Regions from separate parts of the Homo sapiens genome. Here all the other regions are reported to be linked to region 2. Evidence: microRNA targets listed by miRTarBase, many of them from high-throughput screens and not tested one by one. Region 2 holds a microRNA gene; each other region holds the end of a gene's coding sequence.

Region 1 (4,241 bases), not on the chromosome of region 2:
TTCGTGAAGTGCTGGGCACCAGGCCGAGTGTCTGGTCTGCAGGGTGACTCAGGCTGAGGAACTAGCCTGAGCTCCTGACAGGACTTTCCTTCTGCCCTGCCACCTTCTCGATGGCCCAGTGAGCCTCTCGCTTCCCTCTGCAGGCTTCACCGCTGACCTGAGGTCCAACACGGGCGGCCAGGCGTTCCCCCAGTGTGTGTTTGACCACTGGCAGATCCTGCCCGGAGACCCCTTCGACAACAGCAGCCGCCCCAGCCAGGTGGTGGCGGAGACCCGCAAGCGCAAGGGCCTGAAAGAAGGCATCCCTGCCCTGGACAACTTCCTGGACAAATTGTAGGCGGCCCTTCCTGCAGCGCCTGCCGCCCCGGGGACTCGCAGCACCCACAGCACCACGTCCTCGAATTCTCAGACGACACCTGGAGACTGTCCCGACACAGCGACGCTCCCCTGAGAGGTTTCTGGGGCCCGCTGCGTGCCATCACTCAACCATAACACTTGATGCCGTTTCTTTCAATATTTATTTCCAGAGTCCGGAGGCAGCAGACACGCCCTCTTAGTAGGGACTTAATGGGCCGGTCGGGGAGGGGGAGGCGGGATGGGACACCCAACACTTTTTCCATTTCTTCAGAGGGAAACTCAGATGTCCAAACTAATTTTAACAAACGCATTAAGAGGTTTATTTGGGTACATGGCCCGCAGTGGCTTTTGCCCCAGAAAGGGGAAAGGAACACGCGGGTAGATGATTTCTAGCAGGCAGGAAGTCCTGTGCGGTGTCACCATGAGCACCTCCAGCTGTACTAGTGCCATTGGAATAATAAATTTGATAAGGTGGTGACTCTGTTCTGCATTTTTCACGGTGTCTTCGCAGGGGAGCGGGGCTGCCCAGTACTGGGCTCCCTGGAGCCTAGAAGGGGACCCGGGCCCTAGTTAGGTGCAGCCTGGGGCTGCCTCAGTGTTAGGTGGAACGTTCTGGAATGGTGGGAATGCCCTACCCCTGTGTCATTCAGAGAAGCAGCTGCCAGCTGCGCGGGTCTGCTGAGCATTTGAAGTAGGATCAGTGCGGCAAGGAATTACGAGATGTCACTTTGAACGCATTTGGATGGCCCTGTGGAGCGAGGGGCTCTGGATTGAACTTCGCAGGTTTCAGCAACTTTCCGAATTGCTGACGAGCTCACAAGTTCTATCTGCCATCAGGATTTTCTGTGGTCACCCCAGTCCTGACTAGTTTATTAGAAACCCATTTTTTTTTTTTTTTTTTTTGAGATGGAGTCTCACCGTTTGCTAGGCTGGAGTGGAATGGCACCATCTCTGCTCACTGCAACCTCCACCTCCCGGGTTCAAGCAATTCTGCCTCGGGCTCCTGGGTAGCTGGGATTACATGCGTGTGCTACCACGCCCAGCCAATTTTTATATTTTTAGTAGAGATGAGGTTTCACCATGTTGGCCTGGATGATCTTGATCACTCGACCTTGTGATCCACCCGCCTTGGCCTCCCAAAGCGTTGGGATTGTACCACTGTGCCCGGCCTTGTAAACACTTTTTTAGAGGCAGAGTCTTGCTGTCTCCCAGATGAGTATAGTGGTGCAGTCAGCTCACTGCATCCTCCACCTCCTGGACTCTCCTGCCTCAGCCTGCCAGGTAGCTGGGACTCCAGGCATGTGCCACCATGCCCAGCTAATTTTTATTTATTTTGAGACAGAATTTTGCTTGGCCTGGTTGGTCTCGAACTCCTGACCTCAAGTGATCTGCCCGCCTCGGCCTCCCAAAGTGCTGGGAATTATAGGCGTGAGCCACTGTGCTGACCTAATTTTTACTTTTTTTGTAGTAATGGGGTCTCACTATGTTGCTCAGGCTGGTCTCCTTCCCGGGCTCAAGCGATCCTTCTGCCTCAGCCTCCCAAAGTGCTGGGATTTCAGGTGTGAGCGCCAATAGCTTAGAAAACTATTTGTTTTTCTAAATAGTGCCTAAGATGTGAGGAGGCCTAATCTTGTCAGTGCTGATAAGGTTAACATGATCATTTTCCGCCTTTTACTCTGTCCTCAGGAAGGCAGGTGGGGACTGTGAAGTAGGGCTGTGGGGTTCTCGGCAAAGGCGGGGGCAGCTCTGGCCCTGCATTGTCAAGGCCAAGCCTCAGCTGAGGTTTTGCCCACATGTAGGTATGCCTGAGGTTTGGTTTGGCTGTCGCATTTGAATTGGGGCTGTAACTGACGCTGTTTCCAGCAGTCAGGGTAACGGATTACTGTGTTTCGAGAATCTCACTCTATCGCCCAGGATGGAGTGCAGTGTTGTGATCTTGGCTCACTATAGCCTCTGCCTCCGGATTCAAGTGCTCAAGCAATTCTTGTGCTTCAGCCTCCCGAGTAGCTGGAATTACAGGCGCCTATCACCAGGTCTGTGTAATTTTTGTATATTTAGGTGAGATGGGGTTTCACCATGTTGGCCAGGCTGGTCTCAAGCTCGACCGTAAGAGATCAGCCCGCCTCAGCCTCCCAAAGTGCTGGGGTTACAGGTGTGAGCCACCATACCGGGTCCTATTCTTTTTTAGTAGTGCAAACGTTAAGATGGTATGTGGAAGCTGAATTTTTTTTTTTTTTTGAGACAGTCTTTGCTCTGTCACCCAGGCTGGAGTGCAGTGGCTCAATCTTGGCTCACTGCAAGCTCCGCCTCCCGGGTTCACGCCATTCTCCTGCCTCAGCCTCCCGAGTAGCCGGGACTACAGGCGCCCGCCACCATGCCCGGCTAATTTTTTGTATTTATTAGTAGAGACAGGGTTTCACCGTGTTAGCCAGGATAGTCTCGATCTCCTGACCTCGTGATCCACCCGCCTCGGCCTCCCAAAGTGCTGGGAATTATAGGCGTGAGCCACTGTGCTGACCTAATTTTTACTTTTTTTGTAGTAATGGGGTCTCACTATGTTGCTCAGGCTGGTCTCCTTCCCGGGCTCAAGCGATCCTTCTGCCTCAGCCTCCCAAAGTGCTGGGATTTCAGGTGTGAGCGCCAATAGCTTAGAAAACTATTTGTTTTTCTAAATAGTGCCTAAGATGTGAGGAGGCCTAATCTTGTCAGTGCTGATAAGGTTAACATGATCATTTTCCGCCTTTTACTCTGTCCTCAGGAAGGCAGGTGGGGACTGTGAAGTAGGGCTGTGGGGTTCTCGGCAAAGGCGGGGGCAGCTCTGGCCCTGCATTGTCAAGGCCAAGCCTCAGCTGAGGTTTTGCCCACATGTAGGTATGCCTGAGGTTTGGTTTGGCTGTCGCATTTGAATTGGGGCTGTAACTGACGCTGTTTCCAGCAGTCAGGGTAACGGATTACTGTGTTTCGAGAATCTCACTCTATCGCCCAGGATGGAGTGCAGTGTTGTGATCTTGGCTCACTATAGCCTCTGCCTCCGGATTCAAGTGCTCAAGCAATTCTTGTGCTTCAGCCTCCCGAGTAGCTGGAATTACAGGCGCCTATCACCAGGTCTGTGTAATTTTTGTATATTTAGGTGAGATGGGGTTTCACCATGTTGGCCAGGCTGGTCTCAAGCTCGACCGTAAGAGATCAGCCCGCCTCAGCCTCCCAAAGTGCTGGGGTTACAGGTGTGAGCCACCATACCGGGTCCTATTCTTTTTTAGTAGTGCAAACGTTAAGATGGTATGTGGAAGCTGAATTTTTTTTTTTTTTTGAGACAGTCTTTGCTCTGTCACCCAGGCTGGAGTGCAGTGGCTCAATCTTGGCTCACTGCAAGCTCCGCCTCCCGGGTTCACGCCATTCTCCTGCCTCAGCCTCCCGAGTAGCCGGGACTACAGGCACCCGCCACCATGCCCGGCTAATTTTTTGTATTTATTAGTAGAGACAGGGTTTCACCGTGTTAGCCAGGATGGTCTTGATGTCCTGACTTCGTGATCTGCCCACCGTGGCCTCCCAAAATGCTGGAATTACAGGCGTTAGCCACCATGCCCTGCCACTTTTTTTTCTTTGAGATGGAGTCTCCCTCCGTCACCCAGGCTGTAGTATAGTGGCATGATCTCGGCTCGCTGCAACCTCCACCTCCTGGGTTCAAGCAATTCTCCTGCGCTAGCCTCCCGAGTAGCTGGGATTACAGGCATGTGCCACCAGGCCTGGCTAACTTTTGTATTTTTAGTAGAGACAGGGTTTCACCATGTTGAGCAGGCTGGTCTTGAACTCCTACTTCAAGTGACCTGCCCGCCTTGGCTGCCCAAGCTGTTGGGATTACGGGCGTGAGCCACCACACCTGG
Region 2 (4,241 bases):
ACTTGAGCTCAAGAATTTAACACTGCAGTGAGCTATAATCACACCACTGCAATTCCACCTAGGTGACAGGGCAAGACCCTGTTGTCAGAGGCATTTGAACCAGAGCCAACTCCATCTTAAATAGGGGCTGGGTAAAATAAGGCTGAGACCTACTGGACTGCATTCCCAGGAGGTTAGACATTCTTGGTCACAGGATGAGATAAGAGGTCACCACAAGATACAGGTCAAAAAGACCCTGCTGATAAGACAAGGTAAAGAAGCAGACAAAACCCACCAAAACCAAGATGACAACAAAAGTGACCTCTGGTAGTGCTCACTGTTCATTATTCATTAATTATAATGCATTAGATTGCTAAAAGACACTCCCACTAGCGCCATGACAGTTTACAAATGCCATGGCAATGTCTGGAAGTTTCCCTGTATGGTCTAAAATAGGGAGGAACACCTCAGTTCTGGGGAAAATCCCCACCCCTTTCCAGGAAAACTCATAAATAATTCACCCCTTGTTTAGTATATAATCAAGAAATAACCATAAAAACAGCCAGCCACCAGTCCTCAGGGCTGCTCTATGGAGTAGCCGTTCTTTTATTCCCATACTTTCTTAATAAACTTGCTTTCACTTTATTCTATGAACTCACCCCAAATTCTTTCTTGCCCAAGATCCAAGAACCCTCTTTTCAGGGTCCGGATTGGGACCCCTTTCCAGTAACACTGTCTCGAAAAAGAGAAAAACATCCTAACTAAATTAGAACTTCATTTTGTAAAAGTCTTTATTAACAACAACATAGACATTTACACCTGCTCTTATTATAGGGGGAGTAGAGTGGATAGAATAGGGACTTTGAAATCAGTTATTTGTTCTTAAGCAAATTACTTAATCCCTGCATCTCAGTTTCTTCATTGGTAAATTGATAATAGTACCTCATGCTTTATAAGGTTGATGTTAGAACTGAATAAACCATAAGAAAACATCTAGGTGACTTTCTGGCACATAACACACACTTTATAAATGACAACTGCTTTTCTATGTCTTTCCTGAACTGTTCTGAGATATGTGCTCCCTAAACATAAAATAAAGAACTGACACCATAACTGTAAGCATTATGTATTATTACACTGACAGGCAACCTGAAACCATCAGTGTGGCACTTTCAAAAGGTCTATATTATCAAAGTAACTCTTAAGAGATAACTAGAGGCATAATATAAAGATTCATTAATATTGCACCTTTCAATGGTGAGCATTTATAATATGAAAGCAATTCTAATTGCTTTTCAAATTCTTCAAAAAGAAAGCGATAAGATTTCTATTCAAGATTCTTATTCTTATTACATTTCTATGCAAGTTTCTGCCTCCATGTCTAAGATCACATAGCAGCATTCAAATTTAAATACAGAATGATGACAGATTTCAATAATCAAAAGACTGCATCCATTCATATCATACAATTACAAATCTTTTCTTCTACAAATATGTATTCCAAAAAATATACTTAAAATAGATTTATATATATATATATATACACACACACACACACACACACACCCCCCATATGTATATATATACACACACTCTTCACTTTCAAGAGTGGCAAAGTCTTTCCATATGTATGTATGTATGTCTGTTACACATATGGAAAGACTTTGCCACTCTTTAAAGTGAAGAACTTTTGGTTCAGCTTCTTTATTTAAATAAAATGATCAAAACTATTTAAGATACATTGGTGTAAAAGAGTTTTTACACAATGGTTCTTTGAAGTCTGAAAATGTTTTGGCAAAGAGAAAGCTCTTTACAAAACTCAACATGAAGCCTGTACTTCTAAAATAATCCATATAAGTATTAACCTGCATAACCAAATAATAATTTGAAAACATGGTTTTACTGCTTTGTATTCACCAAAAAGAGGGGTGAATAAACTACTAGCCAAATGTTAAGAATATTAAGAAGATCTTAGCCTATTATCTTTATAAATGACTCACAATTTCTACTGACACTAATATTTTTATTATGTCAGCAATAGTAATACTTTACATTCATGTAGACTTTTCCATTGCGAAGTACTTTCTCATATATTAAACTTACGTAACCCTGAAAATAGGTATGGAAAGCATTGTGTTCCATTTTACAGGTGAGAAAACTAAGATCCAATGAAAATTTCCAGGGTCACGTGGAGAGTAACTGGATACAACATCAGTCCCTCTCTTCCAGCTAGTCTTCCTCAGTAGAATTAGGCCCCAAAATGTACTATTAGATTGACAGTAATGTAAAAGTTAAGACATTATTAGTCTCAGTATTTTTTCTTCTTGGATTTTACTAGATGAAATAGAACGTACAATTTAAAGTATCTCCTAACAAAAGAAAGGTTATAAGGTACATGTATAAAACAGGGAGTTCAAAATTCAAGGAAAGCAAACATATATATACATACCTAAATATAATCCAAGGCAATAAACTGCAGTCCAGGGCATAGAGATTCATAACACCATGCCTAGAATTCAGGACTTTGCTTCTGACTTGCTTCTGTAACTTACACAAATCATGGTGACTAAGTAAAATTTGAATTGCTATCACCTAACCAGGCAATTTTCTAAGAATCAATTTTGACTGTCTTAAAATAATTTACAAGCCTGAACAATGTTGTATTCAAATAATAAAAATAACTGCCTATGAATTAAATTTTAAAAACTGCACCAAACTGAGCTATATACCCCATTAGTATTCTTATTCTATTACTATGAGAATGTCAAACACACTTCATATTATACATTTGAATATTTAAGGAATGCTAAGGTATTATAAAACGCCATGGAGACATAAAGGTCATAAAGGTAGTTTAACCTTTGAGGAATTCTGCAGTTTAAAAATGAGATATGTACACTTAATAATTACGAAATTATGCATTGCCAAGGAATGCCCAGAAGAAACGCAAGCTAAAAACAGTGACAGCATAAAGAAAAATTCAACCTCTAGACTAAGCAACTAGAAGATGCTTCATGAAGGGGGGAACATGGCATTAAATGAGTTACTACCACAGGTAAAAAGGGAGGAAATCAAAAGGTGTGTTTTTTGTGGGGTACTGATAAAGCCCTGAGAATGGTGGCAGTGAGAAGGTAAATAGTATCATAAAACACAAATAAATAGGCCAGGTGCGGTGGTTCACACCTGTAATCCCAGCACTTTGGGAGGCCAAGGCAGGCGGATCACCTGAGGTCAGGAATTCAAAACCAGCCTGGCCAATGTGGTGAAACTCCATCTCTACCAACAATACAAAAATTACCCTGGTGTGGTGGCGTGTGCCTGTAATCCCAGCTACTCAGGAGGCTGAGGCAGGAGAATCGCTTGAACCCAGGAGGCGGAGGTTGTAGTGAGCCAAGATAGCACCACTGCACTCCAGCCTGGGCGACAAGAGCAAAACTCCGTCTCAAGAAAACAAACAACAACAACAAAAAATGCAAATAAACAAATGTTTTCATCCACAAACCACAGTTACCTCTTTACAAAATCAATTCAAACGTAGGAGCAGTTTACCCAGAAGATAGTGTGAGATTATTGTTCTTTGTGGTTACAAATATGATTCTTGACAATTACCATGCACATGAATGGGGTTCTACTTGACAATGAGAAATGAGGACTCGGGTTTTTTCCTCTAAAAGACCATCCTAAATAAACAGGTCTATAACAGCATTTTTCCTCTTGTAGCTCTGATCTTATAATCAACTGAGAAAAATAAAAATGAAGGGAAACTGAAATTATGACCTAGCCTAAAAGCAGAGGGGGAAAAGGATAAGTGTGGGTTCCTGTAAACACTTTTAAGATGGTCATTTTCACAATCAGCAAAGAGGAGTGTTTATCCAGTAAGTTAAAAAGAAAATTCTGAGAAAGTCTTAAAATCTTCTGAGAGATGACAGGGAGGCATCAGGCTTTTTTTTTTTTTTAAAACCTGGACAGGAGATAGAATAAATGACATTTTACAATCAAAATTACTTCACTTATTTCATATATAAAGAAAACTAAAAATATGCAAAAAGCCAGATTTTAAGTTGTGTTGGTGAGACTTTCTTATTTTTAAAAATTTCACCCAGCTTGGTAAGAATGATGAATTGCTTTACACTGGGCTTTCAAAGGTTTCTAGAATTGCTCTCTCCTATGCTATTTTGTATTTTGTTTCAACCAATTTGGAGATAGGTGTTTTCCTGAAAATTGTGTTTAACTCTCGTCCTTTAAAAAATAAAAATCACAAC
Region 3 (4,241 bases), not on the chromosome of region 2:
CAGCCAGGTGTGGTGGCAGGCGCCTATAATCCCAGCTACTCAGAAGGCTGAGGTATGATAATCGCTTGAACCCGGGAGGCGGAGGTGGCAGTCAGCCAAGATGGCACTATGGCACTCCAGCTTGGGTGACAGAGTGAGGCTCTGTCTCAAAAAAAAAAAAAAAAAAAAAAAAAAAGATGCTCAAAATCACTAATCGTTAGGGAAACACATTTCAAAACCACAATGAGATGCCACTTCACACCCATTAGGATGGCTACTATTAAAAATGAAACCAAACCAGAAAATAACTGTTGGCGAGGATGAGGAGAAATTGGAACCCTCGTGCCTTGCTGGTGGAAACGCAGAATGGTGCAGCCACTGTGGAAAATGGTCTGTCCATTCCTCAAAAAACTAAAAATAGAGTTACCAGATGACCCAGTAACTCCACCTTCAAAAGAATTGAAAATGGGATGTCACAGAGGTATTTACTTGTACATCTATATTCACAGCAGCATTCTTCACAATAGTCAAAAGGTGAAACTGACCCAAATGTCCACTGATGGATGAATGGGTAAACAAAATATGGTATGCACATACAATGGAATATTATTCAGCCTTTAAAAAGGTATGAGATTCTAATACATGCTACATACTTTCAAGAATGAACCTTGAAAACAGTGTGCTAAGTGAAATATGCCAGATACAAAAGGATGTATGATTTTGCTTATATGAGGTTCCTAGAATAGTGGAATTCATAGAGACAGAAAGTAGAATAGTGGTTACCCGGGCTAGGAGGAGTGGGGAATGGAGAGTTATTCTTTAATGGTTATGGAGTTTCAGTCTGGGTTGATGAAAAAGTTCTAGAGATGGATCATAATGATGGTTGGACAACAATGTAAATGTACTTAGTGCCACTGAATTGTACCTTTAAAAATGATTAAAATGGTAAATTGTGTGCTATGTATATTTTACCACAATATAAAAAGGCATAGACATACACACCTTCACTCAGCTGCAGTAGCCAAATTTCAAGTACTCAATACTCATATGTGGCTAATGGCTATTGGATAACACTGGCCTAAAATAGAAGATTTTGGAGGTGACATATATTTGGTGGGACCATAAGCATAATTTGGTTTTGATAGATAGCTTAAGAATATCAGCTTCCTTCTTCTAGTCAACAATAAAAGAATGGGAAACAGTAAGAGCACAATGCACAGAGTTTGGTTCTGAGCACCAATGTGCACTCACTCTCAAACTGGGAGCCTCCTGCGGGCAGGGCTGGTGCCTGTGTTATTCCATGTGATGTGGGCAGGTGATGTAACCCCTGGACATAGGCTTTGCCTTCCTAAGAGGGCCTGATGCTTTCCAGATGAGATTCCACATCTTCTTACGTTGCGGTGGAGAAAACCAGCTTCTGAACCTGGAAGCATCACCTTCCCGTGCCCGGCGCAGAACAGCTCCTGGAAGCCAAACACCTCTAGAAGGGGAGGGAGCAGCATGAGGAAGGTAAGAGAGACAGGGTCCTGCTCGGAAGGCTCCAGTTAGGTGGTGATGGGGACTCACTGCTGGGCAAGGGGCACCAGAATAAAGATGGGGATCAGTTCTCCCCTAACTCACGTACTTCCTGCAGAGAAATCAGCCTGCAACGCAGGATCCAGGCGAACAGAGGAGGGTGATAGCAAGCCCTCCAGTGGGGCAGAGGGAGGAGGTCTGCACTAAACATCAGTGAAACCACAAAGAACCAAGCATGGTGACTGGGAGTAGAACTAACCCGGATGCCAGGGGGCGAGTGGAGGAAGAGAGTTCTGTCCGCAGGGGGAGCTGCCCAGAGCTGCGACGAAATTTGCTGAGGTCATGCCCAAAGTCAATAAATAGGGATGTGAAGAGGATTCCATTTCATGATGTGTTAAAAAATTTCTTTAAATCTATATTTGACAATATTTCATGTTTTTAAGTCTTCAAATAGAAGCTAAGCCAGGAAAATCTGAACTCTGAGGATGTGGAATGGCCAGAAAGTAAGCCCTGTGCCTCGCAGGTGGGCACTAGTGGTCCTCAGCCAGGAAGTGGCTCTTGTGAGATTATTATTGAAAAGGTGCAGTAAAAAAAACCCAAAAACAAACAAACAAAAAACTTTTTTGAAAAACACAAGCAAATATGTTCCCCCTACAAATACTCCAAATAACGAAGGAGACCCATGTCCAGACACACACATGCTAGAATGGTAAACACCTGTGTCAGGATTAAATGACACCTTGTAAGATGTTCATGGTCCCCAACAGGAAGGGACTCAATAATTGTGTTTCAATGATGTCTAAATGTATGCTTCTGTCTTTCATATCCAATCCTTGGGTGAAGTCCAGGGGCCACTGCCAAGGAAGTGGGTGCTTAGGGGAAAAGAGAAGAGCTGAACTGGCAGGAGGGTCAATTGGAAAGTTGGAGAACTGCACAGAACAAGGGCTCTCAAAACCTTGATTTCCCTTAATGAAACCACCCACAGTGGCACCATCGTCAAAACAGCTGTGAAGAACTTGGAGGCTCTGTCCTCCTCTCAGCAGATTCATCAGCAGGAAGGACTTAGGCCAGGAGGAAGGGAGCTGGGTCCAGGAAAGGAGGGCTGTTCCTGCAGGCCAAGTCCCCATCAAGGCCACCAGAGCGTGCTTCCAAGTACTGCAGCTTAAGCAACGCCCCCCTGAACTACTGGAGGAATCCAACTCTAGGACCGCTACTTATAACTAAAGACAAGATACTAGCACAAGGCCACTCTGCTGTCCATGGAGAAATACCACCAAGCAGACAAAACATGTTACTGCTGTGCTCAGGCTCTGCCTGCACCGCTGGGCACAGGGCTGGGGTGTCAGTCACGCAGGAATGCAGAAAGCAGGAGGACTCACCAGAAAGGTGGGTCAAAAAGGAGATGTACACAGGCAGGAGGCCGAGCAAGGCACCCATCCATGGAAAACGTGGCGTAAAGATTTGGGGTTATTATGGTTGGTGGTGGGGGCTGGTGAGCAGATCTAATATCTGCACCTCGAGAACACACCATCCCTTCCAGCCAGGGTGCACAGCAAGCAGCTGGCACAGAGCCCCCCTTCCCCCACTCCATTCATGCCCCTGAAGCGGCAACTTAATTTTCTTTAAAGGGAGATTGGGGAGGGAATGGAGAGACGAAGAGAAGACAAATAGCTGGAGAAAGATAAATACCTAAGTAAGTTCCAGGAAAACACACACAGAGGAAACACACCAATGCTGAAACCGCAATGATCCAGAAGAAGCTAGTGTTTGGTTACCATTTGCTTCAGCATCCCAATTTCCCTGATCATCTTTTGTTTTTTTCTTTCTTTTTCTTTTTCTATTTTTGAGACAGGTCTTGCTTTCTAGCTAGGCTGGAGTAGTCATGCGATCATAGATCATTGCAGCCTTGAACTCCTGGGCTCAAGAAATCTTCCCTTCCCAGCCTTACAAGTAGCTGGGACTATAGGCATGTACCCCTATGCCCAGCAACTTTATTTTCTGTAGACATGAGGTCTCATAATGTTTCCCAGGCTGGTCTTGAACACCTGGCTTCAAGTGATCCTCCCACCTCAGCCTCCCAAAGTCATTGATCATCTTGACGTATTTCCTCTCATTAGCTTGTCATTTTCCAGCAGGATATTCTGCGGTCCAGTTTCCCTGTTCTGCTCTCAAATGACTGACAGGGGGCCGACACCCTCAGGAGTCACCTCCATGCAGATGGGGCACTGGAGCACTGCTCTGTACCTCCCAGCAGAGGTGGTGGAATGAGGAGGATGTGAGTATCCACCTTTTTTAGTACAGGCTCCACGAAAATAAACCATACCACCAAATAAATGGTTTAATTTTATTTCAAAATTGTACAAAATGGCCATAAGCGGCTATAAAAAATTTGTCTTCAGAACATGTGGAAATTCAGAAACAACAAAACAGGTATCATTCACAGTGTAATGGAAAAGCTTTTTCTGAGGCAGGAATTATAACTCTTCCTTCTTTTTCCCTAGTCTTTCATGGTCTCCCTCCCGGAGGGCTCGAATATAATTGGTAAATCCCAATTCCTGCAGGGAAGTGGGAGAGAGAGAGAGAGAAAGAGCTTTAATCCCTGAGCTGGCTGTGCACTCTCTCTCCCCACACCCCCAGCCCCTCCAGGGGGTCACTCCTATGACAGGGAGAGGTGGGCAGACTTCTGCAAGGTGGAGAGGGTCTGCGTGGCTTGCACCAGCCCCGACCAGCAAGTGAGAAAACCCTCG

Evidence for each region. Region 2 holds the annotated microRNA hsa-miR-3688-3p (UAUGGAAAGACUUUGCCACUCU, at 1,585-1,606, opposite strand). A microRNA usually pairs through its seed, bases 2 to 8, with sites in the 3' UTR of a target mRNA and lowers its output. Matches are read on the target gene's strand: a 7mer-m8 pairs with bases 2 to 8, a 7mer-A1 pairs with bases 2 to 7 and ends in A, and an 8mer does both.
Region 1: miRTarBase lists EEF2 as a target of hsa-miR-3688-3p. Seed matches in the 3' UTR shown: 7mer-m8 at 614-620.
Region 3: the mRNA of PDIA5 is a reported target of hsa-miR-3688-3p. Seed matches in the 3' UTR shown: 7mer-m8 at 3,942-3,948.

The regions. Positions count from the first base shown.
Region 1 is chr19:3,972,650-3,976,890 of GRCh38, reverse strand. EEF2 (eukaryotic translation elongation factor 2) reads left to right here. Exons shown (of 15, transcript NM_001961.4): 15 at 144-835. The coding sequence ends at 337. Among named protein-coding and RNA genes, the nearest start is that of DAPK3, 3.7 kb to the right of the region's middle.
Region 2 is chr4:159,126,226-159,130,466 of GRCh38, reverse strand. MIR3688-2 (microRNA 3688-2) reads right to left here and starts at 1,662; the gene lies at 1,576-1,662. The region is part of intron 1 of RAPGEF2 (Rap guanine nucleotide exchange factor 2); the gene reads right to left. It overlaps MIR3688-1 (microRNA 3688-1), which reads left to right and starts at 1,573; the gene lies at 1,573-1,665.
Region 3 is chr3:123,161,688-123,165,928 of GRCh38, reverse strand. It overlaps PDIA5 (protein disulfide isomerase family A member 5), which reads right to left. Exons shown (of 17, transcript NM_006810.4): 17 at 3,825-4,049. The coding sequence ends at 3,969. MIR7110 (microRNA 7110) reads right to left here and starts at 4,135; the gene lies at 4,050-4,135.